Linked DNA regions of Homo sapiens. The protein of the gene in region 2 purifies or fractionates together with the protein of the main gene of each other region. This does not show direct contact. Each region holds a gene or a part of one and is shown on either strand. Other genes may lie near its edges.

What was found.
Region 1: the proteins of PTPRA (region 2) and XPO4 purify together in Homo sapiens (affinity purification with mass spectrometry, with the first as the bait; one large-scale study listed by BioGRID). This does not show direct contact.
Region 3: the proteins of PTPRA (region 2) and KCNMA1 purify together in Homo sapiens (affinity purification with mass spectrometry; one large-scale study listed by BioGRID and IntAct). This does not show direct contact.
Region 4: the proteins of PTPRA (region 2) and ASNSD1 purify together in Homo sapiens (affinity purification with mass spectrometry; 2 studies listed by BioGRID and IntAct, with this or other methods). This does not show direct contact.
Region 5: the proteins of PTPRA (region 2) and TPCN2 purify together in Homo sapiens (affinity purification with mass spectrometry; 2 studies listed by BioGRID and IntAct, with this or other methods). This does not show direct contact.
Region 6: the proteins of PTPRA (region 2) and XPO6 purify together in Homo sapiens (affinity purification with mass spectrometry, with the first as the bait; one large-scale study listed by BioGRID). This does not show direct contact.
Region 7: the proteins of PTPRA (region 2) and DENND4A purify together in Homo sapiens (affinity purification with mass spectrometry; 2 studies listed by BioGRID and IntAct, with this or other methods). This does not show direct contact.

What each region holds. Positions count from the first base shown.
Region 1 is NC_000013.11:20,797,903-20,801,975, forward strand, and holds part of XPO4 (exportin-4), read right to left. Parts: intron 3,089-4,073; coding exon 2,929-3,088; intron 2,424-2,928; coding exon 2,254-2,423; intron 1,438-2,253; coding exon 1,263-1,437; intron 1-1,262. UniProt on the Homo sapiens protein: Mediates the nuclear export of proteins (cargos), such as EIF5A, SMAD3 and isoform M2 of PKM (PKM2). In the nucleus binds cooperatively to its cargo and to the GTPase Ran in its active GTP-bound form.
Region 2 is NC_000020.11:3,026,521-3,030,593, reverse strand, and holds part of PTPRA (receptor-type tyrosine-protein phosphatase alpha isoform 1 precursor), read right to left. Parts: intron 3,908-4,073; coding exon 3,814-3,907; intron 3,474-3,813; coding exon 3,397-3,473; intron 2,888-3,396; coding exon 2,753-2,887; intron 1-2,752. UniProt on the Homo sapiens protein: Tyrosine protein phosphatase which is involved in integrin-mediated focal adhesion formation.
Region 3 is NC_000010.11:76,951,892-76,955,964, forward strand, and holds part of KCNMA1 (Calcium-activated potassium channel subunit alpha-1), read right to left. Parts: intron 2,034-4,073; coding exon 1,910-2,033; intron 269-1,909; coding exon of another isoform or gene 146-268; intron 1-145. UniProt on the Homo sapiens protein: Potassium channel activated by both membrane depolarization or increase in cytosolic Ca(2+) that mediates export of K(+). It is also activated by the concentration of cytosolic Mg(2+).
Region 4 is NC_000002.12:189,664,328-189,668,336, forward strand, and holds part of ASNSD1 (asparagine synthetase domain-containing protein 1), read left to right. Parts: intron 1-1,048; coding exon of another isoform or gene 1,049-1,124; intron 1,125-1,713; coding exon of another isoform or gene 1,714-1,784; 5' UTR 1,785-1,805; coding exon 1,806-3,269; intron 3,270-3,436; coding exon 3,437-3,618; intron 3,619-4,009. Other genes in the region: ASDURF protein, read left to right, coding at 1,049-1,124, 1,714-1,784.
Region 5 is NC_000011.10:69,083,218-69,087,290, forward strand, and holds part of TPCN2 (two pore channel protein 2), read left to right. Parts: exon of another isoform or gene 1-41; intron 42-727; coding exon 728-799; intron 800-1,992; coding exon 1,993-2,069; intron 2,070-2,453; coding exon 2,454-2,535; intron 2,536-2,630; coding exon 2,631-2,713; intron 2,714-3,305; coding exon 3,306-3,387; intron 3,388-3,894; coding exon 3,895-3,989; intron 3,990-4,073. UniProt on the Homo sapiens protein: Intracellular channel initially characterized as a non-selective Ca(2+)-permeable channel activated by NAADP (nicotinic acid adenine dinucleotide phosphate), it is also a highly-selective Na(+) channel activated directly by PI(3,5)P2 (phosphatidylinositol 3,5-bisphosphate).
Region 6 is NC_000016.10:28,103,687-28,107,759, forward strand, and holds part of XPO6 (exportin-6), read right to left. Parts: intron 3,992-4,073; coding exon 3,836-3,991; intron 2,812-3,835; coding exon 2,697-2,811; intron 2,529-2,696; coding exon 2,357-2,528; intron 1,022-2,356; coding exon 860-1,021; intron 1-859. UniProt on the Homo sapiens protein: Mediates the nuclear export of actin and profilin-actin complexes in somatic cells.
Region 7 is NC_000015.10:65,683,803-65,687,875, forward strand, and holds part of DENND4A (C-myc promoter-binding protein), read right to left. Parts: intron 1-4,073. UniProt on the Homo sapiens protein: Probable guanine nucleotide exchange factor (GEF) which may activate RAB10. Promotes the exchange of GDP to GTP, converting inactive GDP-bound Rab proteins into their active GTP-bound form.

The DNA.
Region 1 (4,073 bases), on a different chromosome or scaffold from region 2:
GTTTTGGAAGGCTGAGGTGGGCGGATCACTTGAGGTCAGGAGACCAGCCTGGCCAACATGGCAAAACCCCGTCTCTACTAAAAATACAAAAATTAGCCAGGCATGGTGGTGCGCACCTGTAATCCCACCTACTTAGGAGGCTGAGACAGGAGAGTCGCTTGACCCAGGAGGTGGAGGTTGCAGTGAGCCAAGATCACACCACTGCACTCCAGCCTGAGTGACAGAGCAAGACTCCGTCTCAAAAAAAAAGAAAATAGGGTTGTCATAGATGTAATTAGTTCAGATGAGGTCATACCGGAATAGGGTGGGCCCCTAGTTCAATATAACTGATATAGAAAGGGGAAGTGTGGATGCAGACACACACAGGGGGAGCATGTGAAGATGAAGGCAGGGATCAGGGTGATGCGTTTACAAATCAAGGAATGCCAAAGACTGCCAGCAAGCTACCAGAGGCTACAGATTTTCCCTCATAGCCTTCAGAAAGAACAAATCCCATGGACACCTTATAGCTTGGACTTCTAGCCTCCAGAAGTAGGAGAAAACAAATTTCTGTTGTGGTATTTTGTTAGAGCAGCCCTAGGAAATGAATATCATGGTTAATCTGCATCTTATTCAAGACAGGAGAATATTTCCCTGATCCCTAATGAAAATTTAATAAGCCAGTCCATGCTCTCGACTGAGTTGTGAAAAATGTGCCTAAAATGCAGAACACTTGATAATATTCAATGTCATCACACACAGGCAGGTACAGAAAAATTATAAGACAACATTTGTAAAATAAGAAGCTTCAACCCATTCATTAGGAGAAAAAATATCAGAAAAGCTATGACTGGGCCGGGCACAGTGGCTGGTCACATCTGTAATCCCAGCACTTTGGGAGGCCAAGGCGGGCAGATTGCTTGAGGCCAGGAGTTCGAGACCAGCCTGGCCAACATGGCAAAAGCCCGTCTCTACTAAAAAAAACAAAAATTAGCTGGGTATGGTGGCATGAGTCTGTAGTCCCAGCCACTTGGGAGGCTGAGGCAGGAGAATCGCTTGAACCTGGGAGGTAGAGGCTGCAATGAGCTGAGACTGCACCACTGTACTCCAGCCTGGGCAACAGAGTAAGACCCTATCTCAGAAAAAAAAAAAAAAGAAAGAAAGAAAGAAAGAAAAGCTATGACTGATACATTTATGTCTCCAGAGACTCTTACGGCAACGCATAGATAAAGGAACTACAGAGTTACACAAAAGGGTGCAATCAAAATAGACAGCACTGTTACCTCTGTCCAATACTGCTGTTTGGTTTCTGTGTCCATATGTGCAAAACCTCCTAAGACTAGAGCCTTCATCAATGTCCTCTGCACAGGACTTGACAAGAAATTAAGAGGTGGGCTTCGGCTTGCAAACTGCTTAGCTAAATTCCACCAGTTCTCACATTGAATTACTAAGTTTGCCCTACAGGTAGAAATAACAAAACATAAGATGTATTACTATGTATATACATACACACATACACATATACACACAAAGAAAACAAAAATAAAAAATAACTAGATTTAATTACTGTTAAAGCAAAGTACAGTAAACTTAGTATAGACTTTGAAGTCACAGGCTTACATTCAAATCCCACTAGTTGTCTGGTGATGTAAAATTTATTTAACCTCTATCAATCATCACTTCTCTATAATCTGCAAAATAGGAATAATAACAGTCTCCTGGGGCTGAGACTGATATAATGATTAAATGAGATACTACCTATGACATGCTTAGAAGAGTACATAGTAAATTATAAGAATTCAATAAACCAGACAATGACAATGGTAATAATAACAATGATACTCCTATACAGTAAGAACAACGAAAACATTTCTAGAATTGTTGTAGAAAGCACTAAAAATTTTACTTTCCAACATTAAATTTTAAATATCAGTATTTAATCTTTAAAATGGGGATGTCTAAAAATTCAAATGAGCATATTCCACATAAAAGTGTTTGCAACACGATAAATTACTAATGTGTTACTCATAGGGCTTTGATGCCAAATCCTGAAGGAGTCAATGTAATGCTCAATTATAAGATGGGAAAGCTCCATTTGCATTTGTAATAGTACTGTGACATAGTTTTTAAAACCCATTACTCCAAAAATGTAGGCTCTATCTGGAATTAGGACCGTGTAACCATTTGCCAGTTCAAAGGACTACACTAAGAAGTGAAAAAGAGTTTCTCACCCACACACATACACACACAGTCAGCCTCCAACAATGGGCTAACCTTTCTCTTCTTTCCACCAAAGTGACAAGGAGCTGCACAGTGTCATTTGCAAGGTCCTGCTCACTACTCCAGACTGAGAGGTTACTGATGACTTTTTGTAAGAGGTAGCCAATTATCCACTGAGAACCCTCTGTATCTGCTCCGAACGCTGTACTGAATGGCAGACTTATCTTAAGAGAGGAAACAAATTTTTTAAGGTAAGCAAGAAAGATCAACTCAAGAAAAAAAAAACAGAGAAAAATCGAACTGAAATTAGTATCTAATCTGAAGTAGTGCTTACTTCACATCAACTTTACACATGTACTCATTTCCACTGGTCAAAAAAAAAGACATCCTCAATCCACTCACATTTTCCAGTGTGATTTTCCCGTCAACTTCTATTATTCCCATAGTATTAAAAAATTAACATAGTATTAAACCAAATACAAAAAAGCATAATCTATTCCCAAATAATAATCTGTATCTTCAACAGCAGTTAAAATAAACGATATCAAGGGATGTGCTCAAAAACACATTAAAACAGCATTCCAGTCACATAATTCTCTTCCACACAGAAAATGTTAAACTGCTCTTAAACAGTTCTATTTTGATGAAAAACCACCAAGAAAAATGTTCCTGCTTCTATAACTGCTATCATCATAAATCCAAATGAAGTTTTAAGTTTTACATTCTGACCTGATCATACAGTTTTTCATCCACCAGGAGATAAGTCTTTGCCCAGCGTTTTAAAAACCAAACAATATCTTTGCCCATCTGGGGACTTAGTAGATGAGTGAGATCTGCTCTTATTGCTCGAGATTCAACTTCTGAAACTCTGAGAATGGCAGACAACAGCCTGTAGGTATAAAACAGAAGTCATTTATTCTTTTATTTATTTAGTTGCTGTCTAATCATATTTTTTTCCTTAAAAGTCCTTTTTTGTCTTTCAGTTCTCTGGATTTAGGTCAGGCTATACTTGAACATTTCATCTACAGAGTTTTAGACAACTGTCCCATATTATTTCTGATCTTTCACGAAGCAGGAGACAAGATAAGGAAAGGAAGAGTCAACACTAGAGATGTCCTTCTGCTGAAGTTGTAACCACATGTGTGAATATCAGCATTACTAGCTAAAGAGAATTTTCAGATTCAAAATTTTCAGATTTTCAGGAGAAATACATCAAATTAAATCTTCAGAGTACATGCCAAACTCTTTTAGCATGTACTACTTAGCATCACTACTTAAAACTACCCTGGTTAGTATAGTTTGTGTTTTTATATCATGGTCATGTTACAGTACAAGATCTGGGAATTATTTAGAAAGTTTTGAATATTGAGCCTTGTTTAAATCCAATATTTCCTAGTAAACTTGATTCTTCATGGTATTTTTAAATAAAACTCTTGCTAGAAAGATTACCTGTGTAAGTACACATATTGTCCTTTCCTACACTACATAATTCATATGGTCGTGTGGTGTCAATCACATAGCGTGACATGCAGACAAACAGAAATGTCTTTGTTGAGGAGGGCACATAATCAGAAGTGATATATATTTAACCTGACTTTAGCCAAAAGGCAAGGAAGCAAAGGAGGTAATGGAAAGACCCCATTACACACTAATGAATATCAGTGCTGAGAAAAGGATTCTAATCACTCAAATTCGGCTTATGCTCCTTTACTAGTGCTCTCAGGAAGCCTGAAATGATCTCATCATGAAATCATACACACGTGTTTCAGTTCTTTACCCCACTGGATGGCCCACTGTCACTGCCCTTATCTTCCTGCAGCCTCCCTGGGGTCACTGCCCTTCCTCTCTTCATCTAGCCATCTGCTTCCTCTTTC
Region 2 (4,073 bases):
TTTCTCTGGGAACTTAATATTGTAGGTGAGGATGGTAGTGTCACTGTATAAGTGTAGGCACCTTTCATTGCATCATTTAGGCTTAGTGCGTTAATTACTTCTGGGAGCTACACTTGACAACATGAATGGAACAGAAAGTGAACTTGGGGGCCAGTGAGGCCTTGTAAAGAACATCACTAACATCCTGTTCCAATCCACTCAGAAGCTTTTGAGGGCAAGCACTACTGTCTGCTTCACTGGCCTAGGAAGACAGAGCATAAGCTACAGTGGAAGGCAGAGGGAGAGGCCTCACTCAACAGGCAGCAGAATTTGTGTGCGCACGACTCTTCTCCCCACCGCCACACACATGAAATGCTTCCTGCCCCCTGCCCTTTACTCTCACTAGGTCCTTTTCAAGGATGGAAGAGCCTGCATCTGACTGGACAGAGGCGGAGATGTTCACTGGGCCACATTTTATCACAGGGCAGTGGGCCGAGATGGTCCTTGTGCTCGTGGTTCCAGCTCTTCGGCCTGCTCTTTGGTCCTGCCCATCACAGATCTGAAGGGCAGGGGTGCAGAAGGAACCACAGGTAGGGCCCTGGTCTGATCTGCAGGTTCCATCACGACTGATCAGAGACGGCAGGAACAGGCACCTAGCTCCTGAGAACACAGTGGCTCATTTCCTAAACAGCTTTTGTTACTCAGGTGTGTGCTTCCTTGAGTGCAAAGCCAAGCACCTTAACCGAACCTCCCACCTCATCAGTATTGTTATTAATGATGATGAAGACACTGGGCGCAGTGGCTCACGCCTGTAATCCCAGCACTTTGGGAGGCTGAGTCAGGCAGATAACCTGAGGTCAGGAGTTTGAGACAAGCCTGGCCAACATGGTGAAACCCCGTGCCTACAAAAATTAGCCAGGCATGATGGTGGGTGTCTTTAATCCCAGTTACTAGGGAGGCTGTGGCAGGAGAATTGCCAGAACCTGGGAGGCAGAGGTTGCAATGAGCCCATATTGTGCCACTGCACTCCAGCCTGGGTGACAGAGACTCCGTCTCAAAAAAAAAAAAAAAAAAGATGATGAAGACCTACAAAGTATGTCTGTTGATTAGGTACATGATACAAGTCTAGGAAGAATAGCTAATGAGTTAAATGACTGATCAAAATTGAAAAAAATGCCGGGCAAGGTGGTTCAAACCTGTAATCCTAGCACTTTGGGTCAACCAGGTGGGTGGATCAATTGAGCCCAGGAGTTCAAGACCAGCCTGGGCAACATGGTGAAACCCTGTCTCTACAAAAAAATACAAAAACTAGCTGGGCATGGTGGCACGTGCCTTTAGTCCTAGCTACTTGGAGGGCTATGTGGGAGGATCACTTGAACCTGGGAGGTTGAGGCTGCAGTGAGCCAAGATCGTGCCACTGCACTCCAGCCTGGGTGACAAAGTGAGACCCTCTCTCAAACAAACAAACAAACAAACAAAACCAAAAAAAAAAAAAAAATCCTGATGTAATGAAACATCAGGGTGAGAAAATATGTGTAAAGCCTTGTACCAAAGTTAACACAAGTACAGATGGGGAACAACTAGTGACTTGAGACAACTAATGTAAAACATACTTTGTATTTTAAATGTTTGACTATAAATTCAATGAGTCATGAGTGGGTGCCATCCTTAATTCCTCCTCACTTCACCCTTTCTGGGACAGCACCCTCTCACCACCCGAGTCCAGGCCACCAGCATTACTGCCACAGCTTTCGCATTTCTAATGAGTCCTTCTCACTGCTGCCAGAGGGATTTTTTAAAAAACACAAATGGGATGTTGTCAAGGGCTCTTCAATTGCTTTAGGAAGACCAAACTCTTCACTGTGGCTTAGAAGGAATTTTCTCACCAGGCCTTGCTAGCTTCTCTCCAGGCCCATTCTCTAGATTCTCATCCCTGCTAAGTGACACCCCAGACATAGTGAACCGCTCATTTGCTGCAATGTGCAACCTCAACAGAAATAATTTTTAAAAGAATAAGCATTGTCAGAACACAGACTGGGTCCCCCCATAATGTGGGGGGTGAGGGAGATATCCCTGAGATTGAATGTGCTTAGTAGAGGCTGTATGATTCTGACTCAGGAACAATATTAGGAGGTTTCCTATACTGAGAGGAAGTTGACCTAGGGGACTGCTAGTGTCCCTTTTTAGTATGAGTTTCCGGACAGCTCTGCTTTTTAATAGACCTGAGGGCTTTTTTCTTTAAAAGATTTCCTTATTACTGAATATTAGACTGTAAGTTTCTTGTTTGTATAATTTCTCAAATTCTACTGCTTTATTTTATGTAGTCAGCAATGAGGCAATCCCTTCTTAGGGACACTCATATTGGGTCCACCTCAGAACCTTGACCTATCTGCCCTGCCTGGGGCACTGGGAAGGAGAGGGTGCCCCCCCCGCCTGGGGCACTGTGCAAAGGCTAGGCTAGGGGGACTGTATTCAGGAGAAAGTGCAAGGGTGTGAGCTGTCTGGGAATAACATGGAGGCTCAGATCACATTGCTTTTCTAGTCTTGGGAGAAGCTAATGACTGCTTAGACACCAACGGGCTGGGCAATCCTGGAAATGCATATGTATTTATATACCTTTAAGTATGTACTTATACTATGCAAACGTACTCTTTGGACCGTATAAGTCAAAGACAAGGTCCAAACACCTTCTTGCCTTCCCAACGTCCCCATTTACACACACATCTTTTCATGCTGTCTCTGTCTCTCACCACCCAGGACCTTTTGAACTCACCTGGCCTCTCTCCTCCAGTTCTGTTAGCATCACGATAGAGCAGGATTTCCACTCCCAGATCATTCGCCAGAAGTCCTCAATTGTGTGGAGAAGAGGGCCCTGGCTGGCGATATAGGAGTCCTTCTGCCGGTAGCCCTGCACAGGCCAGGTTAATTGCAAGGGTGAGATGGTTTAATCACAGAGGGACTAGTGGAGAAGACAGACCACTAGAAGGGAATGGGGACTGCTCGGAGGCAAACTCAGCCCATGCAGAGCTCCCCTGTGGCCAAGGACGAAACCCTATCTGACAAGCTGGTTGCTTTCTGTAAGAGACAGGGAAGTGGAACAGGGATTAGAGCTAGGATGAAGAGGGCAGGAATGGGAAAGATCAGGGGGCAGCCAGGTTCCTCTTGGCTGTGGTCTGCTCTGTGAACTTTTTCTTCCAGGTATTATACTACTGCATGCCATCTGTTTTCCCCCACCTTCTGCTCTATGGAGCTGGACAGACCTAATGCACAGGGTGAGTGGGTGGGTGAGTATCAATTCACTATTTGTTGACTGATTCAAACATGATCCTCCCCAGCAGGTATGGGAGGGAGGCACTGCAAGTGCTGGCTGAATCTCCACGGGGTGTTGGGGGCTCAGGGGTCACACCCACCACTTACATCAATAAAGGATGCGTTCACATAGTCTGTATTCTCTTCGCCCCGCTTAACTGGAATGATCACTCTGTTGAATTCATCTGTAAGAAGAATAGCGGCTTATGGCTAGCCAATATCATTTGTCCTCTCCCTCTCCTTGCATTGCTCCCACCTCAGGCCCTGGGCAGACAGAATCCCAGCTGGGCAAGGACATGTCTGTTCCTAGCTCATTAGGGAGAAAGCCTTTGGCTTTTACGTTATTTCCAGAAGCCACTAAGGTGCAACAAAAGGCAACGCCATGTTGTTAAGTGGGTGCAACAAGAGGCAATGCCATGATTCTTGTCTATACGCCAATCATTAACTAGTACCTGAGAAATGGAAGGGGTGGAGGGAATTGAGGGATGGGGCAATAAGGCTTTGGAGTGGCGGGAGGGCTCTTACATGGAATGATCTGTAAAACACGGTTCTTCTTCATGTTGGCTGGAAGGTTTCCAGTCCGCATCTTGTCATTCTGGATTTTGATTGATGTTAACTTCTGAATTGGGAAGGGGAGGGGAAACATTACTGATCCCAGTAACTGAACTTGACAAGATTATGCCTGTCCCTTGGCCTGCACCTCCAGGCCACTCTGGCTCCATACTGCTCTTCTCACCAGGGCCCTGACCTCTGTTCCCATATGTTCAGCTGGAACCCTGAAGCCA
Region 3 (4,073 bases), on a different chromosome or scaffold from region 2:
CCTGCTAGAACACAAGCTCTGTGAGAGCAGTCGTTGTCAGGGATTGCATCTCCAGTAACTAGAATGGTGTGTGGCACATAGTAGGCCTCCTGGAGATGTTTTGTTAAATGATGTTATTTTTCATAGGATAGAAGTAGTAACTCACCTCCTTAAACTTTTTTATGCTGGCAGGAGATGTTGATTGAATATCAGTTGGCATGCATACTACACCAATATCCAGGCAAGTCATTAAAACCCTAGGTCCCAGATACGGCATCCAGCCTGTGACCTGCCACAAGTGGTAACATCAGGCTAAATTTAGGCCACCAGGGCAAAAGTGCCATGAATACATCAGAATGTACATATATGGCTGGGTGCAGTGACTCACGCCTGTAATCCCAGCACTTTGGGAGGCCAAGGTTGGCGGATCATGAGCTCAAGAAATCGAGACCATCCTGGCCAATATGGTGAAACCCTGTCTCTACTAAAAATACAAAAAAATAACTGGGTATGGTGGCGCGAACCTATAGTCCCAGCTACTCGGGAGGCTGAGGCAGGAGAATCGCTTGAATCTGGGAGGCAGATGTTTCAGTGAGCTGATAGGGCTCTGCACTCCAGCCTGGCGACAGAGCGAGACTCTGTCTCAAAAAAACAAAACAAAACAAAAAGAATGTACATACGTGAAGCAGCTTTGCGAGTAGAACAATTTGCACTCCTGGTCAGTTGGACAACAGCTGTTTGCTAAGAATTCTGACTTTCTGTGCTCTTGCCTGCAACTTTCCCACCTCTGAGACAGCCTCCAGCTTGATACTGTATTGGCTGTTAATGCTCATTTATAATTAAGCTGAGAACACACATACACATAGATAAAGCATAGGGGAAAGTCCAGTGTGTTAGCATACAAAGCCATTCCGAGGACCCAGAACAGTCCTTGTTTAGGAAGGGTGGTCCTGACATCAGAAATGATAGGATTTTCCTGGCTGACAAAAAGGAACAGACCCATACCAATCTGGGGATTAGAGGCCCAAGGGAGAAAGAACCCTTCCATCTGACTTTCCTGATTATTAATCCATTTCTCATGGATTAGCAAGACAATAAACTGTAGGAAAGCCAGTGTAGGCATTAAGACCCAAAGCTGTTAATAGAACAAGGGCAGAGAGTAGAATGGATTGTTACCTATGCTGACATTCCTGGGAGAGACTGGGTGAGCCCACTGCTGCTATGAAGATGTTCACAAGCCTTCCACGAAATAGGGCTCTGAGCCCCAGCCTCCCCAAGGGGACTGTAGTTCATTATTGTCATCATTATGTCATGCATCATCATGCATTTCCCTGTCTACAACATGCACTAAGAAAGCTCACAGATGCACAAGGCTATTATCTATAAGAATACAAAACATTGCTATAAACCAATAACAATACAGGCAGCATTCAGCTTTCCTCACAGCATTTAATAATAGTAAGAATAAGAGGTAACTTTACTGAGTCATCTGTTGGATTTTAATCTTCACTACAGCCCTATGAGTTAGGGTCATTCTCATCTCATCTTTTTACAGATAAGAAAACCGAAGTGCAAAAAGTCAAATGAATTACCCAAGCCATGCAGCTAATAATTGGTACAGGCAGGCTCTGACACCAGCGCCATGGCCACAGGAATTATGTTCATACCACCTCCCACCATGGCTTTCCCACAGCAAGTGCTCACCTACTCTTATGAGGAGCCAATATATTCAGAGATTGAAAAATCTGAATATTGCTTATGTTCTGATCAGAGGTCTAGCTGCTTCAATCTATGCTCAGAATTTCACTCATCAAAAATAATTAGGACCAGGGACAGTATTATCCCACTGTCCAACTAGGGAAACCCCATTCCTAGCAAATGTGGTTTGGGGCAGAAGCGGGCAACATCAGATGCACAGTCCCTCACTCACCAGGATGACTTTCTCTATCTCCTTGGGTGCACACCAGTGAAACATCCCAGTAGAGTCGTACTTCTTCACATTGGAGTCCATGTTGTCAATCTGATCATTGCCAGGAATTAACAAGGGGTCATGCCTGGGAAGAAAAGGACAGGAAAACCTAAGTGGAAAATGTGATAAATTATAAATGGAAAGTGCCCCCTGAATTACATCTCAGAGGATGTGAAAGATGCAGAGGAAGTGGTTGTCACTGAAGGCCATTCTTCTGCTTACAGAATCCATCCTTTGAGAGACAACTGCCCCAAACCACCACCCCACTTCTGGAAGTGCAGGTGACCTTTGTCAGGGAGCATTTCTGCCTTTCCCCCGCTCCTCTTTTCCTAAATGGTCTTCCTAACATTTTGTGGATTCAGCCTCCCTTTTTAAGGCTACCTCACTCCTCTTCCTCTCATTTTACCAGCTATTCGATCTCCCCAGCGTGCACACACACACACACACACACACATACACACACACAGACAGACACACCAAAGGGTTGCTATGAGCCTCGGCAATGAAGAGGAAGGAATAGGAATAGAGCCTCATGCTGACTGACTGGCATGAGGATGGAAAGCCAATTACTCGCTCCTTCTGACTACAACTTCTGACGTGATGCTCTTCGCAGTAAAAGCTTTAACAGGCTGCACTTTAAATATTTTAGCAATTTGCCCAATCAGATTTTGCTCTCCCTGGCTGAAGCCTTTAAAGATTCAGCAGCATGTCACTTCAGAGCAGACTGACTACCAAATGCCCACATCTGGAATACATGATTTCAATACTAAACAACACCCTCTCTCCTTGCCTTGACAACTGTATATGCACTAACCATCCAATGATGCTCCCCACCACCTTCACCTCCCAACTGCTGCATATCTTAGATGAGAGCCTCAAGCTCAGATGCATCTTAATAAACTTGTTTCAAATTCTCAGGGCAACATTCGCCCTCTATTGCCTTGTCTATTGGTGGAAAAGGAAGATGCTTCCATAAAGGCCTCCCGTCTAGTGGGTTGGCAGAGCCTCACTGACAACCTTAAGAACTGCAATGGAATCAGGCAGTTCTAACAAGCTTATAGCACAATAAATAAGCTCCTGCACCTTGAATCATAGTCAATGTCCATGCTTTTATCTCTGATAGTGATTCAGCACCTCGGGTTTGGGAAGTCATTGTTCCTTCCTGCAAAACTGGCCATATAATTAGGACATTGTCCCAGCTATACTTAACCACTCTTGAAATGGAGCTATCTTTTCTGAGTAATATTGTCAACACAAGACAGAAAATATACATCGGGTCACATTCCATAAATTGTAAAGTGATTTTACCTTTTGAAATTCTATATTTCAACATCAGAGGGTGACTTTTTTCTTTTTTCTTTTTTTTTTTTTTTAGACAGAGTCTCGCTCTGCAGAGGCTGACTTTTATTTACTTTTTACTATTTGTCCTTCTGAAATGTCTCCGATACTTCCCACTTATATGTCAAGAGTACAGAGTGGGACAGCAATCTCTTCCATGGCCCAAAAACCTAGGATTAAGCTTTTGAATAACTACCACGACCCTCCAATATGCTCCCCACTCCCACATAAGGTGAGAAAACTTTCTCACTGCCTTTATTTATGCCTGAGAATTTGCTTTTAGACTACACCAAATGACAAATACTATGTGAAGCCAACTTGCAAAGTTATCTTCAACGAACATGCTAGACTACTATAGGAATATCTGTCATATCTGATCTTAAAAGAAGAACAATCCCACTCCGAGTAGCATCTCAGTGTCTGGATTGTTGAGAGGTCTTGAGGTATGTAAACCACCAGGCCATCTTCCAAATACTGAACTTAGTCAAAGATGTTAAGATAAAAAGGCTGATAAGAACTATTTACAGATCAGGGTGAGAGCACATTTTGAGGGATGTTTTTGTCCTTGAAGAGTCTTTAACAGTTGCATAGATATCTATTAATATTATCTGGAATAGGTAGGTAGACAAAAGCCATCATGGAGAAGAGGTTTGAGAAAATGAACAAAATTAACTCTTTCCAGCCCATGAAGAACATATTTCAGTTGCAAGAGGATATTAGCAGACTTGCCCTGAAGATATAGAGCCAGGTTCAAATTCTCTTGCCCTGTTTACTGGTTGGAGAGAAA
Region 4 (4,009 bases), on a different chromosome or scaffold from region 2:
GAACAAAAAAGGATACATTGCTTCCCCTCCCTCCAAAAAATTTTTACATAGATTTTCCTAAATGTGTAACATGGTTATTTAATGCCATTTCCATTAATATGTTACAAACAAGTAAGCTACTGCTTTGTGTATGGTTATAGTGTCAAATTGCATTTTAACATTCAGGAAGAAATGAGTTTGAGCTCTTAAAAGCTTTGTAAAGATTATGTAATAACTGGCTGGTTAGATATTTCTGATATTGTCACTTATGGAATATTAGAAGTTGAGGCACATACAAAAATTAGCCAGGCGTGTGCCTGTAATCCCAGCTACTCAGGAGGCCGAGGCACAAGAATCGCTTGAACCTGGGAGGCAGAGGTTGCAGTGAGCTGAGCACACCACTGCACTCCAGCCTAGGCTACAGAGCAGGACTCCTTCTCAAAAAAAAAAAAAAGAAGTTGAGGCAGAATTAATACAGACTTTCTCTAGAGGGCAAATTGGCAAAAAGTCTCAACAATTCAAAACTATAACACTTTGACCCAGCAGTTCCATTTATAGTAGTTGATACTTAGGAGAGAATCATGGTAGTGCACAAAGATTTAGTTACAAAGATAATCATCACAACCTTGATTTACAATAGCAAAGAGATGGTAACACCTTAAATGTCTAGTATTTGAAGCTGAGCAAATAAACTGTAATATATTATATCTATATAGCAGTAGGTATAATTTGGTCACCATAGCTTGCTTTGGCATTTTGGTGTTCTTGTAAAAGAACACTTACTGATAAGAAAAAGTATTCTCAATATATTGCTCATTGATAAAAGCATAAATCTGCAGGTACAGTAAGAACCTTTTTTGTTAAAATGGAGAGAAAATAGTTTCATTTCAGTAGTAGCAATTTCTGGTAGTTGGGCAGTGGGTGACTTTTATTTGTCTTTTTGCTTGTCTGTATTTGCTAAAGTATTGTACTGAATAGATTTTCAAGAATTAGTGATAATAGGGTTTAAGGATTTTAATATCTACTTTTTAGATCAAAATTTGATATTAGCCTAAATTATGTTTTCCAGAAAGTATATAGGCAACAACAGAACAGCAATATATTCTTTCTTGCAGACCGAACAGAAATGCTGTCTGAGAGCAAGAGTAAGTTTTTTCTTTTTTGGGGTTTTTGGGGGGTGCCTAAATTATACTCATCTGAGTGTTAAAATATATATCTAAAGATTAATGCAGCAGTTTGATTTTCTTCAAATTAGGCTTCCGAAGATGAGTCAACAGTTATATATATATGTGTATATATATATATATATATATATATATATATATATATATATATATATATTATAAATGTTTTAGAAAGCAATAGTTATTAACATGTGCTTTAGAATTTTAAACAGGTCTAAGTATGACAAACCATTACCACTTTCTACCTTTGTGACTTTGGGTGAAATACTTTAAGCCTCCAAGGTATTGTGGGATCTAAATAAGATGCTATGTTAAAAGTGCTTAGCCAAGTGCTTGGGCCAAAATCAGCACTCGGCAAAACAGAAGCTATTTTTCTAAAAGATAAACATTCTTTATTAGTAGCCTGTTGTTAATTATCATTGGTACTGGCACAGTGTGTGTGTTTATATGGTTTGATTTTGGTAAACAGCTTGTGTTGCCCTCTGAATTGCTAGGTAAAAGTCCAAGAATTTTTATGTTATTTAATATTTATTCTCCTTCCCTGCAACAGATATATTGGATGAACTGAAAAAAGAATACCAAGAAATAGAAAACTTAGACAAGACCAAAATCAAGAAATAGTCAACCTGATTTCACATAACAATGTGTGGCATTTGTTGTTCTGTAAACTTTTCTGCTGAGCATTTCAGTCAAGATTTAAAAGAGGACTTACTATATAATCTTAAACAGCGGGGACCCAATAGTAGTAAACAATTGTTAAAGTCTGATGTTAACTACCAGTGTTTATTTTCTGCTCACGTCCTACACTTGAGGGGTGTTTTGACTACCCAGCCTGTGGAAGATGAAAGAGGCAATGTGTTTCTATGGAATGGAGAAATTTTTAGTGGAATAAAGGTTGAAGCTGAAGAGAATGACACTCAAATTTTGTTTAATTATCTTTCCTCCTGTAAGAATGAATCTGAGATTTTGTCACTCTTCTCAGAAGTACAAGGTCCCTGGTCATTTATATATTATCAAGCATCTAGTCATTATTTATGGTTTGGTAGGGATTTTTTTGGTCGCCGTAGCTTGCTTTGGCATTTTAGTAATTTGGGCAAGAGTTTCTGCCTCTCTTCAGTTGGCACCCAAACATCTGGATTGGCAAATCAGTGGCAAGAAGTTCCAGCATCTGGACTTTTCAGAATTGATCTTAAGTCTACTGTCATTTCCGGATGCATTATTTTACAACTGTATCCTTGGAAATATATTTCTAGGGAGAATATTATTGAAGAAAATGTTAATAGCCTGAGTCAAATTTCAGCAGACTTACCAGCATTTGTATCAGTGGTAGCAAATGAAGCCAAACTGTATCTTGAAAAACCTGTTGTTCCTTTAAATATGATGTTGCCACAAGCTGCATTGGAGACTCATTGCAGTAATATTTCCAATGTGCCACCTACAAGAGAGATACTTCAAGTCTTTCTTACTGATGTACACATGAAGGAAGTAATTCAGCAGTTCATTGATGTCCTGAGTGTAGCAGTCAAGAAACGTGTCTTGTGTTTACCTAGGGATGAAAACCTGACAGCAAATGAAGTTTTGAAAACGTGTGATAGGAAAGCAAATGTTGCAATCCTGTTTTCTGGGGGCATTGATTCCATGGTTATTGCAACCCTTGCTGACCGTCATATTCCTTTAGATGAACCAATTGATCTTCTTAATGTAGCTTTCATAGCTGAAGAAAAGACCATGCCAACTACCTTTAACAGAGAAGGGAATAAACAGAAAAATAAATGTGAAATACCTTCAGAAGAATTCTCTAAAGATGTTGCTGCTGCTGCTGCTGACAGTCCTAATAAACATGTCAGTGTACCAGATCGAATCACAGGAAGGGCGGGACTAAAGGAACTACAAGCTGTTAGCCCTTCCCGAATTTGGAATTTTGTTGAAATTAATGTTTCTATGGAAGAACTGCAGAAATTAAGAAGAACTCGAATATGTCACTTAATTCGGCCATTGGATACAGTTTTGGATGATAGCATTGGCTGTGCAGTCTGGTTTGCTTCTAGAGGAATTGGTTGGTTAGTGGCCCAGGAAGGAGTGAAATCCTATCAGAGCAATGCAAAGGTATGACACAGTGTTTCTTCTCCTGAGAATTCCTGAGACCTATTTTTGACCCTTAAAGCTTTTAGCATTTTGATTGTAAGAATATAGCATATTTTAGGTGCATTTATCTTATTTTCTTTACTGTGTAGTTGATAACATTTTTATACGGATTTCTTTAAACCTCATAGGTAGTTCTCACTGGAATTGGTGCAGATGAGCAACTTGCAGGTTATTCTCGTCATCGTGTCCGCTTTCAGTCGCATGGGCTGGAAGGATTGAATAAGGAAATAATGATGGAACTGGGTCGAATTTCTTCTAGAAATCTTGGTCGTGATGACAGAGTTATTGGTGATCATGGAAAAGAAGCAAGGTAATTCTAATCATTTGAGTGTTCTTACGGTATTTTTATAAAAACAGCAGAGTGTAAATGGAGACTTTAAAGTTTGTTTTCTCTTTGGAGACTGTTCACATGAATAAGAGCAGCAATAATAGCTTGGCTTTGTATTATAAACAAAGTCAGAAACAGAGCTGGGAAGAGCCAGGAGAGCATTTATTTTCTAGAACTCATTCTCTAAGAAATGTCTTTTCAGTAATTTTCAAAGGTAACATAATGACAGGATTGTTTTTAAGACTATAGTGAAAAATACTGTCAAAGTAGGCCAGGCATGGTGGCTCACACCTGTCTTCCTAGCACTTTGGGAGGCCAAGGCGGGTGGATCACCTGAGGACAGGAGTTCAAGACCAGCCTGGTAAACATGATG
Region 5 (4,073 bases), on a different chromosome or scaffold from region 2:
CTGCAATCATGCCGTTTTGCTTGAAGTCGCAGTTTCCCAGGACCTCTCACGTGAGTATATACATGCTCACGATGACACGCAACGTGTGCACACGTACATGCTGACTGGTCTCCACTGTGGCGTTCAGCTGTGTTGTCTAGTTTGGATTCCTCAGGTGGGTTGATGGGGCTGATGTGAAGGCCTTTCTCCCGGCTAGGCTGTGATGAGGAGGAGCGGCTCTTTGGAGCCGGGGCCTCCCTGCTGGTTCTCAGAGGCCCCTTCTCAGACTCAGTTCCTGCAGGTGCTCCTGCCACCTCTAGCTCTGCATTTCTTTGGCGTCTCCAGGCCACAGAGTAGCTGACCCACCTGCAGTGGGTTGGGAGGCAGAGAAGGGCCTCCCACAGGAATTTGAAGTCCGTGCTTGAATGAGGCTGGGGTGGAGGTGTTGGGATGCGGGAGTGGGTGAGTGAGTGCGTGCGGGTGGCGATGCAAGCGTGTGCGAATGCGTGTGGGTAGATGTAGGTGTTGGGGTGCGAGGGTGTGTATGGGTGGACGTGGGGGCCTGACAGGCTGTGTGGGTGTGTAGAGGCGTGTGGGGGTGGCTGTGGGTCCAGGTGTGTGTGTGTGGGTTGGTGGTCATTGGCCTGCCCCATCTTGCCTTTCTGTCAGGGTCAGCGTGGTGGGCCGGGATGGTGTCCCCTCAGTGGGGCCAGGAGGAGTAAGGGCTGTGCTCTCTTCCTGTCCTCAGCTGATGGCCGTGGTGGCCAGTACCGTCCTGGGCCTGGTGCAGAACATGCGTGCGTTTGGCGGGATCCTGGTGGTGAGTCCCAGGCTGCTGCTGGTGGCGGGTTATGCACTGGAGTGGGAGGCTGGGAGGCTGGCGGAAGGCAGTGCCGGGCCGGCTCACTGCTCTGTCGGTAGGAAGGTTCTTGGGTTCGGACGGCAGCAGGTTCCTGAGGCCAGGGAAGTACAGGGTCGGGGTAAGAAGCCAGAGGCATCCCCTTCTTTGTACAGCAGGGAGCTCGGGTGGTGTGGCTGGTGGCCCTGCCTGAGCATCCTTCCCTCCCATGGCAGAGACTGTTTGGTAATTTTTGAGTCTCTCGTGTTTTCTGGGTTGTGGATCTCGTTGAGAAAGTAATGACAGAAATTTAAGAGGCGCAGGGCTTTGCTCCAGGGACCCCAAAGCCTGCACAAGCCCTGGGATGAGGACTTGGTCGAGGCTCCTTTCTTAGAGGAATTTCAGGGACTCACAGCCACATTTGCTGAGCGAGAACTGTGGGACGCCCCGGCCCCTCCCTGGGGGCCAGCCTTCCAGCTGAGGAGCCCATCTGCTCTGCCTGGTGGCCGGGCTTGGGCAGGAGAGGGGCCTGTGACCAGGCAGGCCCCAGATCCGCGCCGTGCAGAGTGACAGGAGGCGCCCTTTGCAGGAAGCCCGGCCACACTTCAGGCAGTTTTGCCATTTTATTCTGACCACCTTGACGTAGGGACCACTGGGGTGAGAAGGTGTCTCTGGGGCCGCAGGGTGCTCTGGGCTGGACCCCAGCTGTGCCTCGCGCCTCTGGAAATAGACGCTGGGAAGAGAATCTTGCCTCAGGTGCTGTCTGCCCAGCCCCCTAACTTGCACAGCAGAGGAAACTGAGGCCCAGAAAGGGGACCAGGTTAGCCCAGGCGTGTACCCCTTCCACTCTGCTGACGCATGTTAGGGACAGGCCTGGGGTTGGCGGGCAGCCTGTCCCCTAACTGTGGCTGCCAGGGTACCTGGGGGCAGGGCCCTAATTCCCTTAGGAGCTCCATGACCACGCCTGCCTGAGCCCCACTGTGTCTGTGGACCCGCCAGCCCTGGGGGAGGCCAGCTGCGTGTGTTTTGAAGTAGCAGCCAGGCTGGAATCCCAGCCCTGGGCAGAGGGTCCTGGCCTCACAGTCATCCTCTGGCTTTGCGGTTCTGTCTGGGGAGGGTGGTGGTGGGTGCACCCATGGGTGGGGCTGATCAGTCCCCGGCTCCTGGCCCGCCAGGTGGTCTACTACGTATTTGCCATCATTGGGATCAACTTGTTTAGAGGCGTCATTGTGGCTCTTCCTGGAAACAGCAGGTGAGGTGGGGTCCGAGGTGCCACAGGGAGTGTCTCAGGGGTGCTGGGGTGGGCGGGAAGCCTTGGCGGTGGCCTCAGTGGGCTCAGCATCTCAGGATGGGAGGGTGTTCTCCCAGTTCCTTCGTCTCCTCCCTCCACCCCCTTTTCCCGACCCCCAATTTCCACCTCCGCTCCGCACCTCTCCTAGGAGCCCTTGCCTGGAGTCTGCTAAACACATTTCTCGTGGCCTGCTCAGAGCAGCACTTTCCCTGCCCTCTGAGCCTCTGTATCCCAATTTGTACCTTCAGGCCAGGCTGAGCACGCCAGCAGAGGAAAGGGGTGTAAGGTATCAGGCCTCAGAACCTGGAGCCCCCGCCCCTGACCCAGGTGTGTTGTGTTCCCCAGCCTGGCCCCTGCCAATGGCTCGGCGCCCTGTGGGAGCTTCGAGCAGCTGGAGTACTGGGCCAACAACTTCGATGACTTTGCGGTGAGCCCTGCGCCCTGTCCCAGCACCCTGCTCCCCGGGCTCCTCCCCTCCCTACCTCCTGGGCCCTCCTGGACCGCTGGTCTCTGCCCCCGCAGGCTGCCCTGGTCACTCTGTGGAACTTGATGGTGGTGAACAACTGGCAGGTGTTTCTGGATGCATATCGGCGCTACTCAGGCCCGTGAGTCCTCGTCTCCCTGACGGCAGTGATTCTCCGTGCAGCCTGGGGGTTCCCTCACCTCCGGGCACGCTGCATCTGCACTGGACGCCCGGAGCGTGGCTGGGACGGGGACTCGGGCCTTGACAGGGAAGTCGGCCAGCGTGGCATCCTGGCTTGCCTTGTCCCTGCCCCCTGCATAGCCACATCGTGACTCTCAGGATGGTGGCCAGTGACTCTGGGTTTACACCTCCTGGAGGTCGTTGGTGTGTTTGGGGCTTCTGAGGAATTCCATGGGGGTGGGGGAGCCCCGGGAAGGCTGAGTGAACGAGATAGTTCAGCTCTGAGCTTGAAGAGCTCAGACTGGCCCCAGCTGATGGTCCTGGGTTTTAATCCCAGCACCGCCTCCTGCTGGCTTAGCTACCTCGGCAGCTTGTTGCACGTTTCTAGGCCTCAGTTGGGTTGTTTCTGAGATGGAAATAGTAACGCGCTCTGCATCATGGTGTGTGTGGGCCGGCTGCCCGAGAGCTGTCCTGGCCACGCAGCAGTGGTGTTTGTATCGAGTGCTCTTGCTTTGCTCATCGTGGTTCACAGGGTGGGTCTCTGTCCTCCGCAGGTGGTCCAAGATCTATTTTGTATTGTGGTGGCTGGTGTCGTCTGTCATCTGGGTCAACCTGTTTCTGGCCCTGATTCTGGAGGTATCAGAGATCCCCACCCAGGCTGTTCTCCATGGTCGTTTGTTTCTAATTCACTCTCGATGGGCCTGAGGCCACCGGCCGGGCCTGCCTGGAACTTTGATGGGAGAGTCGTGCTGGGTTAGGCGGGTCCTGAGTGAGGCTGAGCCCCTCCCGTGGGGCTCAGTGCTGCCCGCCCTGGCTGCTGGGGCCTTGGGGAGTGCTCCTGACATCTGGGCTGCTGGGGCCTTGGGGGGTGCTCCTGACATCTGGGCTGCTGGGGCCTTGGGGGGTGCTCCTGACATCTGGGCTGTGGGGATTCTCAGGCCCCCAGGTCGGGCTGAAGGAGGGACTTGGACATTGGCTCCAGGAGGAGCCAGCAGCCTCGTGGGGCCTGTGCCTGGGTGTCCAGGGTGAATGGCTCAGCCCCCTCAGCGGGTGCCCTGTGGCTGACCCTGGAGGGGCCGGGGATGGGGCAAGGCTGCTTTCATTCGGGGCCCACACTCACTGGCCACTCCTCCTGCTTGCCAGAACTTCCTTCACAAGTGGGACCCCCGCAGCCACCTGCAGCCCCTTGCTGGGACCCCAGAGGCCACCTACCAGATGACTGTGGAGCTCCTGTTCAGGTGTGTGGGTGGGGAAGGCGCTTCTGTCTGGCCCCCTGGGATGGGAAGCCAAGAGCTGGGGGGTGGAGGGGTTGAGGCGGCGGG
Region 6 (4,073 bases), on a different chromosome or scaffold from region 2:
GTACTGCAGACCTGAGGCCTCGGTGGGTGCCAGGGATGGGAAGGCCAGGGCAAGGGCACGTGCCTGAAAAGAACTGCCACACAAGAGTCAGTATGTGTGTGTGTGCGCGCGCATGCGCACGTGCATGCCTGTGTGCATGCTGTGTGCTAGTAGGGAGCTGGAGGGAGGGTGGAAATCCCTCTTGCTTCCCCATGAGGAAAAGCATGCACTGAAAATACCAAAAGAGACTCCCCTAGCTAGACTCAGATGAGAACGTCAGACACTTGAGTGCAGACCCTGGGAGCGTGCCTGACACAGCCACAGAGCAGGCTGGCTGTCTGGGCGAGGTGATGCCGTCCCAGTCTTCCACAGCAAGGGGTATTTAGCCCCCAGACAGTGCACTCTCTCCAATGGACAGCTGCATCTGCCCTGAAAGCGAATGCTCCCTCCCAGGGCAGTGTTTCTCCCAGTATGGTCAGAGTCAGAATCACAGTGCAGGTCTGGGGCCCTCCTGCGGAGACTCATATTCAGGCAGCTCCCCGCTAAGAAGGCCCTCGGTGACTCTGGCATAGGCAGGCTCTTTACACTTGGGGAAACAGCACTATGAGGTCAGCGGAACTGACGTTTATCAAGCATCTCCAAGTGTCATGCACTTTGTGTATGTCATCTCATTTAACCTCACAACAAACCTGTGACCCAGGCAACATTAGCTCCACTTTGCAGATGAAGAAACTGAGGCTCCAAGAAATTAATTAACTTCATCAATACTAACAGGCAGAACTGAGCTTCAGACCCGAGACTGTGGGGCTTCGAAGACAGGACTCGCTGCAGTGGTCAGGTTAGAGGAAGTCACCTGGCAGCAACCCCGCCCCCACGTTACCTGCATGATGGCACTGAACTGGGGCTCATTCTCCATCTGCTCCTCAGCGATCCCCCTCTGGACACTGGCCAGCACGGTGGACTTGAAGAAGTACCTCCAGTTGTGATGGAGCGTCCGGAAAAGGAGCTCAAACAGCTCGGCCTTCACATCAGGGGAGGGACGCTGCAAAGACACACAGACGCTCAGACCTGCAGCTTGCGGAGCTGCTCCGGCCTGGGCCCAGGGCAGCAAAGATGCCTAGGAGACGCCTCGTGACAGCAAGCCGAGTGTCAACACTCCATCCACATGCCTGTCACTACCTGCGCAAAAGACATCCAGCCCCTGGAGTCCTGTCACTGCCTGTGCAAAAGACATCTAGCCCCTGGAGTTGGCGGTTCACACCGCGAGTTCTTCAGGAGAGACATGGCCCACATTTGAGAGAGAATGCACGGGTCAGTGCCAAGGGCCCCTTTTTCTGATGAGCACTCAGCTTTTACACTAGAAAAAAGCTACCAAGTGGATGAACAATTAGGAGTATGGATTTCCTGTTCTATTCGACCTGTCAGATCTTCTTGCTTGTTCCTTTTCCCAGGATAAAAAATGCTGTCCCACTAACCTGTTGGTCTTACACAACCACGGAGGCTAAAGACAGACCCAACGCCTTAAAGCGATTCTGCTCCCCAGAAGGGGAGGGTTTAAAGAACACTTGGGAGCCAGGCTCTCTGGGCCAGTCTCCTCTTTCCCAGTAGCCAGGATTCTGAGAGGAGTTAGAGGAGAAGGGTCAGGCTCAGCAGTGTTTTCTCATTGACTCCAACTCCCCCAATCCCTTATTCCAAATGTCTCTGCAGAATTCAAAATTAGAAGGCCCACATATATTCAGTTCAGCCTTGATTAAAATTAAATAGACACCAGGGGCCACAAGCATCCACAGAAGAAGCCTCATAGGCCCAGTGCATTTCGTAATGCACAGCAACCAGACCTGTCCCAGTCTCAGTTCAGACAGTTAAAGATTAACTCTTATTTATACGACTATTACCAAAAAAACTGAAATTAAATCTATACTTATTCCGGGTCTTATTATGCTGAGTGCCTGCCTATTTTCTAAGAAGGACAAAGGGCTTTCCTGTAACACTGAAAGGTTTGTTTGAATGGTTTCAAGAACTTGCCTTGTATCCTCGAGACCATGAATGTTTCTAATAGGAAAGTACATATGTTAGAATGTTTGCTATAGAAAACCAGAGTCTCTTAAAGGTATAAAATTTGCCGCAGGAGACTGATCTTAGCAACTGACCCTGTGGAATAACTGCCATGCTTACACTAGACTAGCTCCAATGAACTCAATCAATATAAAAACACTGTACCACACCACTAAAGGCCTTCTTCCTTGGGAGAAACTACTTTACAAGCATATTAAACTAACAAATGAACTTTAAAACACAATACATTTTCTGTGAAATCTCATTCCCTTCCCAATCTGGAGATGGGGGGTGCTGCACAGGGGACCGTCTGAGCCCCTACCTCGGCAATGATGGGATACACTTGCTCCATGCACAGGGCGATGATGCTGGGGAGGAAGGGCTTGAACACCTGGCCTGGCTCCTGGACCACCACCTGCAGGATCTTCAGAAACTTCTCCACCACCCGGCAGCCTGTGCTGCCCTCGTGGAGGATGCTCTCGGCTAACTGCTCTCTACAGAGGAGAAAGCCACACAGTGAGCAACCACATGTTTCTCTGGGGGCCAGCATGAAAACCCATGCTGTGGCAAGTGCAGAACAGGAGCAAAAAGCCACACTTTGTCGCCAGACCCACCACTTCTCCCTTGAATCTGAAAACTATAGATGGTGGGTCTGTGCTTACCTGGTAAACATGTTGAGGAAAGTCTGTATGATTTGCTCAGTGAAAGGCACACCCATCTGTACTCTAAGGCCTCGAAACAGAGTGAGGAAGAAGCTCAGCATCTCATCAGTCACATCTGAGGAAAGGGGCAGAGATATCGTCAGAGGCTTGCACACAGTGAGAACCAGAACCCTGGGCTTCATCAACCTACTCCTGAAATCTGCACTATCAGCTTTCTCTACAGCTTCCTGCTGGAAACATTTCCCCAACACCATCAGGGCCAATGATGGAAAGTGGAAAACGATTAGGGACATGCTGAGAAAATAGTTCTGGTATAGGGAACCTCCACCTGGTGGCTCACTACAGGAAATGAAGGTCATCTCGAACCCTCCCTCATTGCCCGACATCCAGTGATGGTCAGAGTTTCACTGGAGAGGGATCACTTTGTGCCCACACTGATGAATGCCAACTGGGTCAACACCTGAGTGCTTAAGCCATTTCCCCCTATGACTAATAATCCCTGCAGCTGGGTCAGGGGTTAAGTGGTTGAAAGTGGATAATGAAGGTGTATTTAGGTTGCATGGCCCTGGTCCATTAAATGGATTAATTGCAGAAAATACTGGTTACATATAGGGCAGTTTCACTTCCAGATCTCAACAATCATCTTGTGTAGTGTGTTTCAGCCCTAACTGCACGCAATCTGCTTGCAAGAGGCAATGAATATTTGCTGACTGAGAAGTGCCTGATATTTCTCTTGTAAAACTGACAAGACTACTATAATGCTGTCATGAGAGCTAGGCAAGTACATCCACAGAGCTAGAGAGGCCCTCTATCACTGACAGTGACAGACAAGGGTGAGGGGAACGATCTCGGCAAATGCACCTTGCCACAAAATAAGGAGAACTAAGCCAAAAAAGCTCTCTTGCCTTCTCTTGTAGGTGCCAAGGCCCATATGGAGAGCTCTGCTCACTTTTCCAAAGGGCCTTGGCCCTAGACTCCACAAATAAACATCACTGCCCTTTCCCCTCAGTACCGGGTTTCGTTGCACGGAACAAGTCAAGGCCTGTACTGCACCGACTCAGTGTGTTCTACAGATCTAAGTGGGTATTCTGGCCCTTGTTAGCACCACCCACCAGTGGGGCCTCTGGGCCAGCTCCTACCTGACTGATGGATAAAAGCTGGAAAGAGGGCCAGGGAGACCTGAACAGATTCCTGCAGCGACTGGTAGCAAATCTGTCGAGACTTGGTGGACTCCCCCGAGATATTCTCCACAATATCTTCTAAGACGCTGAGTGTCTGGTGGATAATCAGTTTGGCTGCAAATCAAGATGAGTTGCAGGTTATAAGCTGTCTGGGGAGAAAGCATGGTAAGAGGAGACACAAGGGAGAGGGAGGAAA
Region 7 (4,073 bases), on a different chromosome or scaffold from region 2:
ATTTACCAACTTTTAGAACGTTTCTAATTTTAGAAAATCTTTACCACCCCAGTAAGATACCTCATGCCCATTTACAGTTAATCTCCATTGCCTTCCTAACACCAGGCAACCACTAATATACTGTGTCTACAGATTTGCCTTTTCTGGACATTTCATATCAATGGATTCATACAATATTTGGTCTTTTAAAATCTGGCTTAATCCACTTAAAATAAACATGTATTTGAGGTTCACCAATTTTTAAGGCATGTATCAGTATTTCGTTCTTTTGTATTGCTCAATTATATTCCACTGTATAACACATTTTACCTATTTTCCAGTTGACGGAAATTTGGGTTGTTTCCACTTTTTGGCTTTTATGAACAATGTTATGATTATTCACATAAAATCTTTGTGTAGTCTATGTTTTCATTTCTCTTGGGTAGATTATTTAGAGTGGAACTGCTGGGTCATATGTTAAATTAATGCTTAGCTTTTAAAGAAGCTGCCAAATTGTTTTCCAAAGTGGCTGTACCATTTTACATTCCCAACCAAAAAAGTATGAGGGTTCCCATTTCTCCACATCCCCTCCACTTGTCATCATCTTTTGGATTATAGCCATTCCTCTAGTGAGTGTGAAATGGGATTTCACTGTGGCTCCAAATGCAATTAATGCCTAATAACTAATTATGTTGAACATGTTTCATGTGCTTTTCGTCCATTAATATCTCTTCTTTGGTGAAATATCTATTTAGATCTATTTTTAACTTGGGTTGTTTATCTTATCATTGAGCTGTGTGAGTTGTTTGTATATTATGGATTCAAGTCCTTTACTAAATACAGAATTTGCGTATCTTTTCCCCAGTCTGTGGCTTTTCATTTTCTTACATTTTCATTTTTGGATCACAAAAGTCTTCAATTTTGATAATGCCTAACTTATCAATTTTTCCTTTTATAGACTGTTTCTGGTATCATACCTAAGAATTCTTGGCTTAATTCAAGGTCTTAAAAGATTTTCTTCCTATATTTTCTTCCAATTTTTTTTTTTTTTTTTTTTTTTGAGACGGAGTTTTGCTCTTGTTGCTGAAGCTGGCGTGCAATGGCGCGATCTTGGCTCACCGCAATCTCCGCCTCCGGGCTTCAAGCGATTCTCCTACCTCAGCCTCCCAAGTAGCTGGGATTACAGGCATGCACCACCATGCCTGGCTAATCTTTCGTATTTTTAGTAGAAACGGGGGTTTCACCATGTTAGCCAGGCTAGTCTTAAACTCCTGACCTCAGGGGATCTGCCCGCCTCAGCCTCCCAAAGTTCTCAGATTACAGGCATGAGCCACCACGCCCCGCCCACAATTTTTTTTTTTTTGAGACCGTGTCTCACTCTGTCGCCTAGGCCAGAGTGCAGTGGCGCAATCTCAGCTCACCGCAAGCTCCGCCTCCCGGGGTCACGCCATTTCCCTGCCTCAGCCTCCCGAGTAGCTGGGACTACAGGCGCCTGGCACCGTGCCCGGCTAATTTTTTGTATTTTTAGTAGACACGGGGTTTCACTGTGTTAGCCAGGATGGTCTAGATCTCCTGACCTCGTGATTCGCCTGCCTTGGCCTCCCAAAGTGTTGGGATTACAGGCGTGAGCCACCGCCAGCCCACAATTTTTATAGTGTTAGCTCTTACATTTAGACATCTTATCCTTTTTGTGTTAATGCTTGTATATAAGTTGAGTGTCTACATTCACCTACAGTCATCCCTCAGTATCCACAGGGGGTTGGTATTTGCACATAACCTATGCACATCCTCCTGTACAAGTTAAATCATCTCTAGGTTACTTATAATACCTAATACAATGTAAATGCTATGTAAATAGTTCTTATACTGTATTATTTGTATTTATGTAATATTTTCAATCTGTGGTTGGTTGAATCCATGGAAGCAGAACTTGCAGATACAGAAGTCTGACTGTATTTGCATGCAGATATCCAATTATCTCAGCACCATTTTTTGACAAAAACTATCATTTCCCCATTGAATTGCCTTGGCATCTTTATTGAAATTTAAATAACCATAAACATAAGAGTTTATTTCTGGAGTCTAAATTTTATTCTCTCATCTATTCATCTCTGTTTATGCTAGCAGCACAGTCTTGATAGCTGTAGCTTTGTAGTAAATTTTGAAATTGGGAAGTGTGAGTCCTCCAACTTTTTCTTTTTCCAAATTGTTTTGGCTATGCTGGGTCCTTCTATTTTCTATATTAATTTTAGGATCAGCTTGTCAAATTCTACAAAATCCTGCTAGAATTTTGATAGGTGCAATTTTGATATACATTTAGATGCCAATGTAGGGAGGGTTGCAGCTTAACAATACCGAGTCTTCAATTCCATGAACATGGCATGTCTCTCCATTTATTTAAATCTCTTTTAAAATCCCTCAGTAATGTTCTGTAACTCTTTACAATGTACTTTGATTTGGATCCTTTTCAATTGACTGAGGTTTTTTAAATAGCCAAACATAGTTTATCTTGATGACTGTACTGTATACACTTGAAAATAGTGTATTCTGTAGTTGTTGAGTGTATATTCTATAAATGTCAATTATATAAAAGTAGCTGATTGTGTTGCTGAGATTTGTCTTGACCAATTTTTGTTACCTCTTCTATCAACTGAGCGTTTTTAAATTTCCTACTCAGATTTAGAACTCCCCTTAATTCTACCAATTGTGTCATTGTTTTGAGGCTCTGTGATTTAGTGAATATACATGGATAATTATTGTGTCTTCCTGATGAACTGTTTCTTATAATCAATATTTTTCAGAGACAAAGTCTTGCTATGCTGCCCTGGTTGGCCTAGAACTCCTGGACTCAAGCAATCCAGACCTCCCACCTCAACCTCCTGAGTAGCTGGAACTACAGGAACACACCATAACATCCAACTCCTCATTATTATGAGATCAGTCTGTTGCTCAGGTTGGAGTGCAGTGGCACAATCATAGCTCACTACAGCCTTGAACTTCTGGGTTCAAGCAACACACCTGCCTTAGCCTCCTGAGTAGCTAGGACTACATAGGTATGTGCCACCATGGCCAGCTAGTTAAAATTAAAAAAAAAAAAAAATTGTACAGACAGGGTCTTGCTATGTTGCCCACGCTGGTTTCAAACTCCTGGCTTCAAGCAATCCTCCTGGCTTGGCCTTCCAGAGAGCTGGGATTACAAGCATGAGCCACCATGCCTAGCCAAAGTCTGCCTTTTAATTGAGGTGTTTAGATTGTTATCATTTAATTATTCATATGGTTAGATCTAGTCTATTTCTCTGTTCCCCCTTTCTTGGCCTCTTTAAGATTTCCTGTTCTCTGTAAGACTATTTGAATATTTTTATTGGCTTTTTGGCTACATCTCACTGTATTTTTTAACTCAGTGCTCCAGGGATTACAATATACATATCTAATCATTTAAAGTCTACTTGGAGTTAGTTTTATATCATTTCATATTTAATAATATAACTATAATGAAGGTCTGTGGGGTAAGTTCCTTTACTACTGATGTTCACTACTGTCAAACATCTATGCATATTTAAAATTCCATGAGATAATGTTACTATTTTTGTTTTGGACAATTATAGGTTTTTCTTTTCTTTTTTTTTCAGTTTAGGAGGCAAAAAAGTAATCTTTTCTAATAACCAGCTATTTACCATTTATTTTGCATTTATTTTATTCCTGAAGATGCAGGTTTCTCTTTGGTATCATTTTTCTTCAGTTTAAATAACTTCCTTCAGCATATCTCATAGAGCAATCCCATTGCTCATGAATTATTTTATCTGAAAATGTCTTTATTTCACCTTCACCCATGAAGAATATTTTCACTGGATATAAAATTCTGAGTTGACAGGTCTTTTCTTCCAATGCGTTAAAGGCACCATTCCACTAAATTCTTCCAAGGATTGTGATGAAAAGTGCATGGGTACATTCAAATCTTTATGGCTCCGTAGGTAATGAATAATTTTTTAACAGCTTTCAGTGTATTTTAATTTTTTTTTAGCAGCCGTTTTCTTGTTAGCAGGTGAATATCTCTGATTTTTAGTTTACTTTTGATGTGTGCAAGTGTGGTTTTG